Linked DNA regions of Homo sapiens: region 1 is linked to region 2. The links come from fine-mapping of genetic effects on plasma protein levels. Region 2 holds a variant in brackets. A gene starts in the other region. All regions are shown on their forward strands.

Region 1 (5,350 bases), not on the chromosome of region 2:
TAGTAGAGACAGAGTTTCTCCATGTTGGTCAGGCTGGTCTCGAACTCCTGACCTCAGGTGATCCACCCACCTCGGCCTCCCAAAGTGCTGGGATTACAGGCGTGAGCCACCATGCCCAGCGCCTCCTATGCTTTCATTCAAAGGAAGTAAAAGCAAGAGAAAGCAAGTCCAGGGAAGTAAAGCAAGGAAACGAAATCAGCCGGGCACAGTGGCTCACGCCTGTAATCCTAGCACTTTGGGAGGCCAAGGCAGGTGGATCAGGAGTTCCAGATCAGCCTGGCCAACATGGTGAAACCCTGTGTCTGGTAAAGATACAAAAATTAGTCAGGCGTGGTGGTGGGTGCCTGTAGTCCCAGCTTCTTGGGAGGCTGAGGCAGGAGAACTGCTTGAACCAGGGAGGCGGAGGTTGCAGTGAGCCAAGATTGTGCCACTATACTCCAGCCTGGGTGACAGAGCCAGACTCTGCCTCAAAAAAAGAAATCAAAGCTAAAAAGACTGGAATAGAAGAAACAAAATGGTCATTACTTGCAGATGATAGGATTGTGTACGCAGAAAATCAAAAAGAATCCACAAAGAGAACCCAAACATAATTATTAGACTTAATATGAGAGTTTACAAGGTTACTTGATACATAGAAATCCATTGTTTTTCTATGTACCAGCAACACACAGTCTGAATGGGAATTCAAAAGAAGGTAGCCAGGCGCAGTGGCTCACAGGCTCACGGGCCAGCACTTTGGGAAGCCAAGGCGGGAGGGCCGCTTGAGTCCAGGAGTTTGAGACCAGCCTGGGCAACATAGCGAGACCCTGTCTCTACAAAAAAATTACAAAATTAGCCAGGCACTGTGGCGCCTGCCTGTAGTCCCAGGTGTTTGGGAGGCTAAGGTGGGAGGATCACTTGAGCCCAGGAGGCTTCAGTGAGCCATGATTGCGCCAATGCACCCCAGCCTGCACGACAGAGCGAGACCCCGTCTCAAAAAAAGAAATCAGATTGATAAATGCTATGATATTAAAATTAAGACTTTCTGTTTATCACATGATACATCAGCAAACTGAGAAGACAAGTAACAGGTAGGCCGAAGACATACACCCCAGGGATTGGTGTGGAAAATACAGAACACCTGCAAAGTGTAAGCCAAGACATGCACGGGCATTTGACAGAAGAAATGAAAAGTGCTGCAATATGGCCGGTGGTCAAGGAATGCCGATTCAAAACCCAGCAGGGCACCATTTCACACCCACTGTATGCGCAGAAACTCTCAAGTCTGCTCTCTGGTGTACGTGAAGACGTGGTGCAGCAGTGGCAGTGGGGGTGTCCGCTGGGATGCCAGCATGGAGAGCTACGTCTTCAGCCCAGCAAACGTGAAGCCCACGTCCCACTGACCCAACGAGTCCCCTTCCAGCATTGAGAAGCCTGGCACACAGCAAGGAGACGACACCAGATCAGTTGACGCTGCCTTCCCATCCCTTGGTGAGGGGACCCGGCCATTGCAGGATAAATCCAGCACGACTCCCCTGACATAAGATGTTCCGGTTCCCCAAACCAGCCTAGATCCTTTCTGGTTACACCAGCTTCAGACCAGGGGCTGCCATAGCCACGCCTCTTATCTGCTCAGAAAGCGTAGAAGGTGCATATGCAGGCCATATACACACATATTTATGAAAATGGTGCTGCCTGTGGATGGATTTATTTTCTTTTTTCTTTCTTTCTTTTCTTTTTTTTTTAAAGACAGAGTCTTGCACTGTCACCCAGGCTAGAGTGCAATGGCACCATCACGGCTCACTGCAGGCACCAACTCCCAGGCTCAGGCGATCCTCCCACTTCAGCCTCCCAAGTAGCTGGGACTACAGGCTCGCACCACCATGCCTGGCTAATTTTTAAATTTTTTTATAGAGATGGGGGTCTCACTATGTTGCCCATGCTGGTCTAGAACTCCTGGGCCCAAGTGATCCTGCTGCCTTAGGCTCCCAAAGTGCTGGGATTACAGGCGGGAGCCACGACGCCCAGCCTGATTTATTTTCTTCTGTGGAAAGGAAGGAGAAACCCATTCCCCATGCCAGATTGCAGGCGTCTGTCTCATCCGGGGCCAGCAAGGACATGTGTGTGTGTGTTGGGGTAGGCATGGGGGGAAGGACAGGGAGAGGGAGAGAGGCCAGCTGGCTCCCCCAAGCCTCCCCTCCTGGAGCTTCTAAATCCCTCCCTGGCTCCTTCAAGGCTGCCTGGCCTTCCTGTTGGGGAGAGACCCCTCGCCGGCTGCTCACTCGCTTTTTGGTGGTCCTTCCCACGGGCCTGCCTGGTCTGCCTCCACATCCTCAGCGGCTGCAGGTGAGAAGCTGTGGATCTGGGGCCCAGTGGTCCAGAGCGTGGCCCGTGCCAGAATGCCCAGGTTCAAATCCCATCTCTGTGGAATGCACTCTGAAGAAACGACGTCAGGTCATGGCCCTGGGCAAGTTACCCACCTCTGTGCCCCATTTCTCTCCATGCAGGTTGGAAAGAATGACACAGCTGCTCAGGGAAGCACCCATACCCCGAGTCTGCTGGGCCTTTGAGCTCCAGGGCCAACACCTGGCCCTATACCCTGGCCGCCCCCAGGGCTCCAGCCACCTGAGCCAAGCTTCTCACCCCCAGGCCTCCCCAGCCCCATCACCATTTCCTCCTCCCTCATGGGCCCCTCAGTCTTACCGTCCTCCCACTTCCGCCAGCCCCTCTGTGGATGGCCCTGCCACAGGGGGAACAGTGCCCCAGCAGAAAAGCCCCAGGGTCGCCTGGATTCTCCTGCCTTCGCCTCCTGCCCTGGGTCCAACGCACAGTCTTCAGAATGCTGCCTCCCCAGAGCGCCTCTAGAACGCGCCCGCCTCTCTCCATGCCCATGACCACCACTGGACCAGGCCTCCCCACATTCTCTGCCCCAGTGCCACCAGCTTGCAGTTGCCCATGGCGAGACAAGTTCAAGTTCTCAAGCCTGGCCACAAAGACCCCACCTGATTTGCTGACCTCCGCCACACCCTGGGAGACGGCCCTTGACCAACCTTGTGTTCCAGTCGGTGGGAAACACTGGTTTTTCCTCAACGCCACGTGGGCATGTCACGTCCAGGCCTGGCCTGGGGTAGGCCTCAGCTCCATCTCCTGCCCAACGCCTGCCAAGGTTCATGGTTCAAGGTCATGTAGCCTGACGGTTAAGTGAAGGGGCCCTGTGATTGACTCAGCCTTGCCACATACTAGCTGTGTGACTTTATTCAAGTTTCCTAACCTCCTGTGCCTCAGTTTCCCAACCTGTGTTTGTTTCTGGATGGTGCCAGTGCCAAGCCCAAGCCTGGCATCCAGTAGGTGCTTCGTGCCAGGTTATGGAATGCCCACCCAATAGGAGGGCGCTGCCGTCTCTCACCTGCCAGGTGCCCACGGTCAGTACTCCATCATGCCCGCTGCGGCCAGCAGAGGGCAGCAACATCCTGCCCTGTGCCATTGGGCAAAGGGGCGGGCGGAGAGAGGCTGGGCTGCCTGGCCGGGCTTGTTGGGATGAGTCGGACTGGGCACGATTGCATTGTGGGGAGGGAGGCTGGGGCTCTGTGAGACGTGCTCCTGGCACCGCCAGCTGCTACTTGGCCCTCGCCGGTGGCCCACCAGGTAGGCAAGAGCTGGGGCAGGCTTGGGCTTGGGCTTGGGGTGCAGGGGCTACCAGCCTCAGGGCAAGGCATCAGGGTCTCAGGGCCAACTGGCTGGGGTCAGGCAAGAGCGCTCGGGTGTCGGCCCAGCCTGACGACGGCACTAGGTGTCTGGGAGCACGGTGTCCCCCAAGTGGTAGCCCTGGGGTTAGGAGGTGGGGAACCATGTTTCTTCCCCGAAATGGGAAAGCCAACGCCAGCCTCGGGCAGGGTACAGGGTAGAGAGGCTGCCCGCCTGGCTCCCCACCCCCACAGCCACCCAACTGGCCCAGCCAGGTGACAGCAGCCCACTGCCACCTTGCCCTGGAGCCTACTGCTGCCGTGCTGTGGGGGAGGCAGAGACCCCATCCCCAGTGCACCTGCTCCTGTGCCACTGGCCAGGGTGGCCTGTGAGGGTGACAGGGGGTCTAGCTGCTAGGTGCCCCTCCCTTCCCCATCCCCTGCATGGATGGCATCTAGGCCAGCAGGACGGTGCTTCAGAGGGTGGGGTGGACAGCCCCGGCCTGTGGACCCTCTGCCTCAGCCCATCTCAAGCAGCCTCCTCCCGTGGTCCTGCTCGCTGCCACCATGCTGTACCTGGCACCACTTCACCAGTCCCCAGGGGCAGGGCTGGGCTGGGGGTGTGGAGGAAGATCTTTTGGACAAAGGCAGGCATTGAGGGCCAGGACTGGCACTTCACCCAGGCCCCAAGGCTACCAGCCGGCATTTGCAGGGGCTCCAAGGTCCACCCCGTGCCCTTCACAGGGACCCGGGGAGCCAGGGAGGGGCATGCTTAGTGACACAGGGGTTGCAGGGCCAGAGGGGGAGGGCTGGCTGGAGGAAACCCCGGCCCTTTGTCCCCGGATCCCGGGGGTGGCTCCCTGAGGGTGGGAAGTGGCAAGGAGCCCCCTGTCCAGAACAGCCCAGTGGGGGTGACAGCACTAGCGAGTGGGGCCCTGGCCTGGCCTCTGGACAGAGGGAACATTGTTGTGGTGGAGGCAGGGCTGCCTTGGCCTGGCCACTATTGACAAAGCTGCCAGCTGTGAGGGAGCCCGGTCGCTAGGCCCTGGGCGCCACCCCCACCGCCGCCCCTCCTTCCCCAGGCCAGCTCGAATGGGGCTGAGCCTCGACTGTCTCCCTCCCACTCAGGACAATGCCCCCCCGCAGCCATCTCATGCCCATCGCCACTGCCCTGGGGCAGCTGAACTGAGCGTATGTGCCACGCCGCCCAGGAGACCCCTCTGCTGCACCACTTCATGGTAAGTGCCCAGGCCCGGTGTCCCCAGAAATGTTCCTGGGAGGGGCAGGGTAGGGCAGGATGGCTGTGGCCAGGCCCAGGACATACAGGCTGCAGCCTCCCTCATGGCAGACACTGCCCCAGATAGCCCGGGGTCCGCAGGAAGTGTCCGTGCTCTTCCTGCCTGTGTTCCTGAGATAAGCGGCTCCTGGGCCTTCCTCCAGGCGCTGCTCTGCCCTGAGTCGCAGCGGCCCCACTCCTGGTCGGCATGTGACCACACACCCAGGGCAGCATCTCTCTGTGGAGGGCAGGAGGGGCCAGAGAAGGGGCTGCTCCCACCTCTCACCCTCGGGGGCTCACCCCGGGGTCCCACCAGGCACACCCAGGAACCATCTCCAGTCTGGCACCCCTCCCTGCCCCTTCCCTGACCCCTCCCCCAGCCAGCTCTCCTGGTCTGCTCTTCTCCTGGGAC
Region 2 (5,315 bases):
CTCCTCAGAGGTCCAGAACTGATTTCAAAGAAGATAGAAATGACTTCAGGGTGAGACAGTCAGTGAATCGTAGCTGAGTGAATGGATGGGGGATTTCAATAGGTAGACAGCCTGGTACTTAGAAAAGGCATTAGCCTTTATACTTTCTGGTGTGGAAAAGAAAGAAAGAAAATACATACCTTGTACATTTTTTTTTCTTTGAGACAGAGTTTTGCTCTTGTTGCCCAGGCTGGAGTGCAATCGGCTCACGGCAACCTCTGCCTCCCGGGTTCAAGTGATTCTCCTGCCTCAGCCTCCCGAGTAGCTGGGATTACAGGCACACGCTACCGCACCCGGCTAATTTTATATTTTTAGCAGAGACAGGGTTCCTTCATGTTGCTTAGACTGGTCTGAAACTCCCGACGTCAGGTGATCCACCCGCCTTGGCCTTCCAAAGTGCTGGGATTACAGATGTGAGCCACCGCGCCCGGCCTCGTTTTGTTTCTTTGAGACGGGGTCTTGTTTTGTTGCCCAGGCTGGAGTGCTGTGATGCGATCTCAGCTCACTGCAACCTCTACTTCCCAGGTTCAGGTGATTCTTATACCTCAGCTTCCCGAGTAGCTGGAATTACAGGCACCCGCCACCACGCCCAGCTGATTTTTATATTTTTCGTAGAGATGGGATTTCACCATGTTGGCCAGGCTGATCTCAAACTCCTGACCTCAAATGATCTGCCCGCCTTGACCTCTCCAAGTGCTGGGATTACAGGCTTGAGCCACCCCACTGTGCCCAGCAGGGCTCATACATACTCATTACTAAGCAAGAAAGAATGAAAAGAATGAAAATAAATGAATTAAACATTGAATTCATGTAATTGGGAAAAGGACATCAAAATAACCCATGGAAAGCAGAGGAAGGGATGAAGTAAACAACATAAATGAAAGGATGAGAAAACTTGAACAGAACTAACTAAAGAATGAGCAAGTCTGGACAAGTACAACTTATGCAATACTAGAAAATCTGAAGGTGTGGAGAAAGTACTTCTAATCTCCAAAGCTGGGAACATAGGAGGTTTCAGCTCCAAAAGAAACCAGAAAGAAAATCCTGGGGAAATTTGGTTTAGAAAAAAAAAATGTTCAAACAAACAAAAATAGCTGAGGAATCATCCTGTCATTGCGGGGATGAAAAGCTGAGTGTCGTGGTCATATTAACAGGCCCGCAAAACACCAATCAACTTTGGCTTTGCAAAAGGTTGTTGATTACAAATGAGTAACTGCCAGTCTGTGAAATCTCCTGGCAACTGTGCCTGGCATAGTCTTTTCGCCATTCACAGGCCTTTGTATGGATCTGTTCCTCACTGCCTACCTTGTTCCAACTGAAAAACACTGAGGTCAAATTCATTCAAATTCTAATTTAATGACCAAGTGTTTATACAGATTAGTTTGAAGCAAATAAAGCCCAGATGAGTGCTTTGCACATAGTAGGCACTCAGTAGGGTTTTGTTGATTAAATACTAAGAATTACTGTTTTGTCACTTTTGTTTGTTTGTTTTTGAGACGGAGTCTCTCTGTCACCCAGGCTGGTGCAGTGGCGAGATATTGGCTCACTGCAACCTCTGCCTCCTGGATTCAAGAGATTCTCTTGCTTCAGCCTCCCAAGTAACTGGGACTACAGGCCTGCACCACCATGCCCCGCTAATTTTTGTATTTTTAGTAGCGGTTTTGCCATTTTGGCCAGGCTGGTCTTGAACTCCTGACCTCAAATGATCCTCCTGCTTTGGCCTGCCAAAGTTCTGGGATTACAGGCATGAGCCACCATGCCCGGCCTTTGTCACATTTGAAGACTGAAATGTTTAAGTCTTCAATGTACAACTCTACAATGTACAACTGAGGGGGAAATGATAGGCATGTGTCATGGGTTGAATTGTATTCCCCCAGGAGATATATTGAAGTCCTAATCCCCAGTACCTCAGAAGATGACCTTACTTACACATAGGGTCTTTGCAGACATAAGTAGTTAAGATCAGGTCATAGTGGAAGATGGTCAGCTCTTAATCCAATATGACCTGAAAACATAGCAGGAGAATGCCATGTGACGATGGAAGCAGATATTGGGCTTATACAGCTACAAGCCGAGGAACACCAAAGATTGCTAGGGACACTAGAAGCCAAGAGAAAGACACAAAGCTGATTCTCCCCTAGGATCCTTGGGAGAGAATAACCCTGCCCTTACCTTGGCTATGAATTGTAGTCACTAGAACTGTGAGAGAATAACTTTCTATTGTTTCAAGCCCCCTAGTTTGTGGTAATTTGTTACTGTAGCTCTAGGGAACTAA[T/C]ACAGCTTGTTTCCAAGAAACATGTATATGTGTTTGTATGTTGCTTCACACTATGTGTTACCTAGGTGAGAACAAAAGAATAGGAGGGTTCATGTTTGAGAAATAATTACTAGGATTGTAGTGATTGTAGTAAGACAAAGAGAAGGAAGGTACATCAGTTATCCACTACTATAAAAATCCACTCCAGGCCAGGTGTGGTGGCTCACACCTGTAATCCCAGCACTTTGGGAGGCCAAGACGGGAGGATCACTAGAGTCCAGGAGTTTGAGACCAGCCTAGGCAACATAATGACACCCCCTCCTCTACAAAAAAAAAAAAAAAAAAGAAGAAGAAGAAGAACATTAGCCAGTGTGGTGGTGTGCACCTGTGGTCCCAACTATTTGGGAAGCTGAGGTGGGAGGATTGCTTGAGCCTGGAAGGTTGAGGCTGTAGTGAGCTGTGATCACACCACTGTACTCCAGCCTGGGCAACAGAGCAAGACCCTGTCTCAATAAATAAATGAATATCCTGGCCGGATGTGTTGGCTCACACCTGTAATCCCAGCACTTTGGGAAGCCAAGATGAGCGGATCACTTAAGGTCAGGAATTCGAGACCAGCCTGGCCAACATGGTGAAACCCCCATCTCTACTAAAAATACAAAAAATAGCTGGGTGGGATGGCATGTGCCTGTAGTCCCAGCTACTTGGGAAGCTGAGGCATAAGAATCACTTGAACACTTGAACCCGGGAGGCAGAGGTTGCAGTGAGCCAAGATCACGCCATTGCACTGCAGCCTGGGTGACAGAGTGAGACTCTGTCTCAATAAACAAACAAACAAACAAACAAAAATTAGCTAGGCGTGGTGGTGCACACCTGTAATCCCAACTACTCAAGAAGCCGTGGCAGGAAAATCACTTGAACCCGGGAAATGGAGGTTGCAGTGAGCCGAGATCGCACCATTGCACTCCAGCCTGGGTGATAGAGTGAGACTCTGTCTCGAAAATAAATAAATAAATAAAATATCTGGGGGAAGAATGTTCTAGAGAGAAAAAGAACAAACGCAAAGCCCCTGAGGGAGGAGCGTGCTTGAGTTTCCAAAGAAGCCATTCTGCCTGGAACAGAGAGAGCAAGAAATGAAAGTTATTCAACAAGAAAGCTCAGGGAGGTAGTGAGGGTCCAGACCTTACAGGGCCTAACAAACCACTGTGGCAAATGGTATTGTCTGAAGATGGCCACGACGCCCACTCCCAGTCCATGAGCTTATCTTCGACACTTCTCCCATCAAGAGGTGAGGTCCCTGTCCCCTCCACCTTTAACTGAATAGGCTTCTGTGACTGTTTTGACCAATTGAGCATGGTGGAAGTGATATTATGTGACTTCCAAGGCTAAGTCATAAAAGACAAAGCAGCTTCTGATTTGTTCACCAGGACACTCATTTTGGAAGCCTATAGCTGCCACATGGGGAATCTGACTGCCCTGAGGCCAACAGGCTGTAAGGAAGTCCAGATTAGCCCACATGGAGAAACCACTTAGGAACGTCCTGAGATGACATGGAGAGAGTAGTGCTTTATTCCCTGGGTGTCCCAACTCTAGCCATCTAACTGCACTTGCGTGAGACACCTCAAGCCAAAACTATCCAGCTGAGCCCTTCCTAAGTTCCTGAACCACAGAAGCCATGGGAGAAAATAAAGTGATCATGGTGGTTTTAAGTAATAATGCAAGTGAGAGAGGATGATGACTTAAGCTTGCATGGTATAGGTGATGAGAGCTAGTTGGATTCTGAATACAAATATTCATTTCCTAGAAATAATCTCAAACTTATAGAAAAGTTGCAAATACAGTACAAAGATTCTTTTTTTCTGAGCCATTTGAGATGCCCCATCATTCTTGAATACTTTCATGTATGTTTCCTACAATGACATTTTTGCATAACCACACTATAACTTTTAAAATAAGAAAAAAATCACATGACTAACATTTAATCAGACCTTATTCAGTTTTCCCCAAATGTTCCACTAATGTTCTTTATAACAGAAGTTATGAAATCATACAGTAAATTTTAGTTGTGTGATTTTCAAGATCACACATTGCATTCAGTTTCCATGTCTTTATTCTCTTTCAGTTCTCTTTCAATCTGGAGTAATTCCGTAGTCTTTCCTTGACTTTTATGACTTTGACACTCTTTGTTCATTGTTTTGTTTTCTTTTTTAACTTCCCATACTATGCCAGTGTAATGACCTTGACACTCTTGAAGATTATGGGAAGGTTATGTTGTAGAACACCCTCTCTTTGAGTTTATCTGATGTTCTCTCATGATTCTATTCAGCTTATTCATCTTTGGTAGATAATATTACAGAAGTAGTGCTGTGATTTTGTTATGTTCTATCAGATGGCATATGATTTTAATGTGTTGCATTATTGATGATGCTAACTTTGATCACCCAGTTAAGGTGGTGTCTGCAGGATCTCTCCACTATGAAATTACTCTTTTTCCATTTGTAATTAACAAGTATTCTAGGCCCGGCACGGTGGCTCACGCCTATAATCCCAGCACTTTGGGAGGCTGAGGAGGGAGGATTGCTTGAGCTCAGGAGTTTAAGACCAGCTGGGCAACAATTCAAAAAAAATTAGCTGGGCATGGTGGCCCAGCCTATATTCTTAGCCTCTCAGGGAGTGGGTTGAGTGGGGTGCTGAGGTGGGAAGATCACTTGAGCCCAGGAGGTGGAGGCTGCAGGGAGCTATGATCGTACCACTGCACTAGAGCCTGGGCAACGGTGTGAGACCCTGTCTTTAAAAAAAAAAAAAGTATTCTGTAAGAGGGTAGTTGAAGTTCAGACTTTGTAAATACCTTATCTTTCATCAAACTTTTAATTTACTCACTATCTTACATTTATTTATATGGTTTCTTATTTTATTAAATTGGTTGTAAGCCATTGTCATTATTATTTATTTTGATGTTCAAATCATTTAAGATTTGGCTAATGGAATCTCCTTCGTGTTAGCTAGCATCTGTGTCCTTTTG

Alleles and levels. Alleles are on the strand shown, and positions count from the first base shown. The strength of an association depends on the size of the effect and on how common the allele is.
With allele T in place of C in region 2, the plasma level of the protein whose gene starts at base 3,569 in region 1 is lower (weak association).

What was found. A credible set is the group of variants that fine-mapping cannot tell apart. PIP is the posterior inclusion probability: the model's chance that the variant is causal. Protein levels are from antibody-based Olink assays in UK Biobank. Linkage for the fine-mapping came from a reference panel and not from the study's own genotypes, which makes the PIPs less certain.
Region 1: PLXNB3 starts here. The variant in region 2 is the best candidate, but not a certain one, in a credible set for the plasma level of the PLXNB3 protein (UK Biobank, PIP 0.56).

Annotation. Positions count from the first base shown.
Region 1 is chrX:153,760,681-153,766,030 of GRCh38, forward strand. PLXNB3 (plexin B3) reads left to right here and starts at 3,569. Exons shown (of 36, transcript NM_005393.3): 1 at 3,569-3,624; 2 at 4,791-4,900. The coding sequence starts at 4,856. It overlaps PLXNB3-AS1 (PLXNB3 antisense RNA 1), which reads right to left. Exons shown (of 3, transcript NR_199696.1): 2 at 3,030-3,169.
Region 2 is chr9:4,742,429-4,747,743 of GRCh38, forward strand. No RefSeq gene overlaps it. Among named protein-coding and RNA genes, the nearest start is that of AK3, 3.9 kb to the left of the region's middle. The variant T/C (reference allele first, on the strand shown) is at 2,315.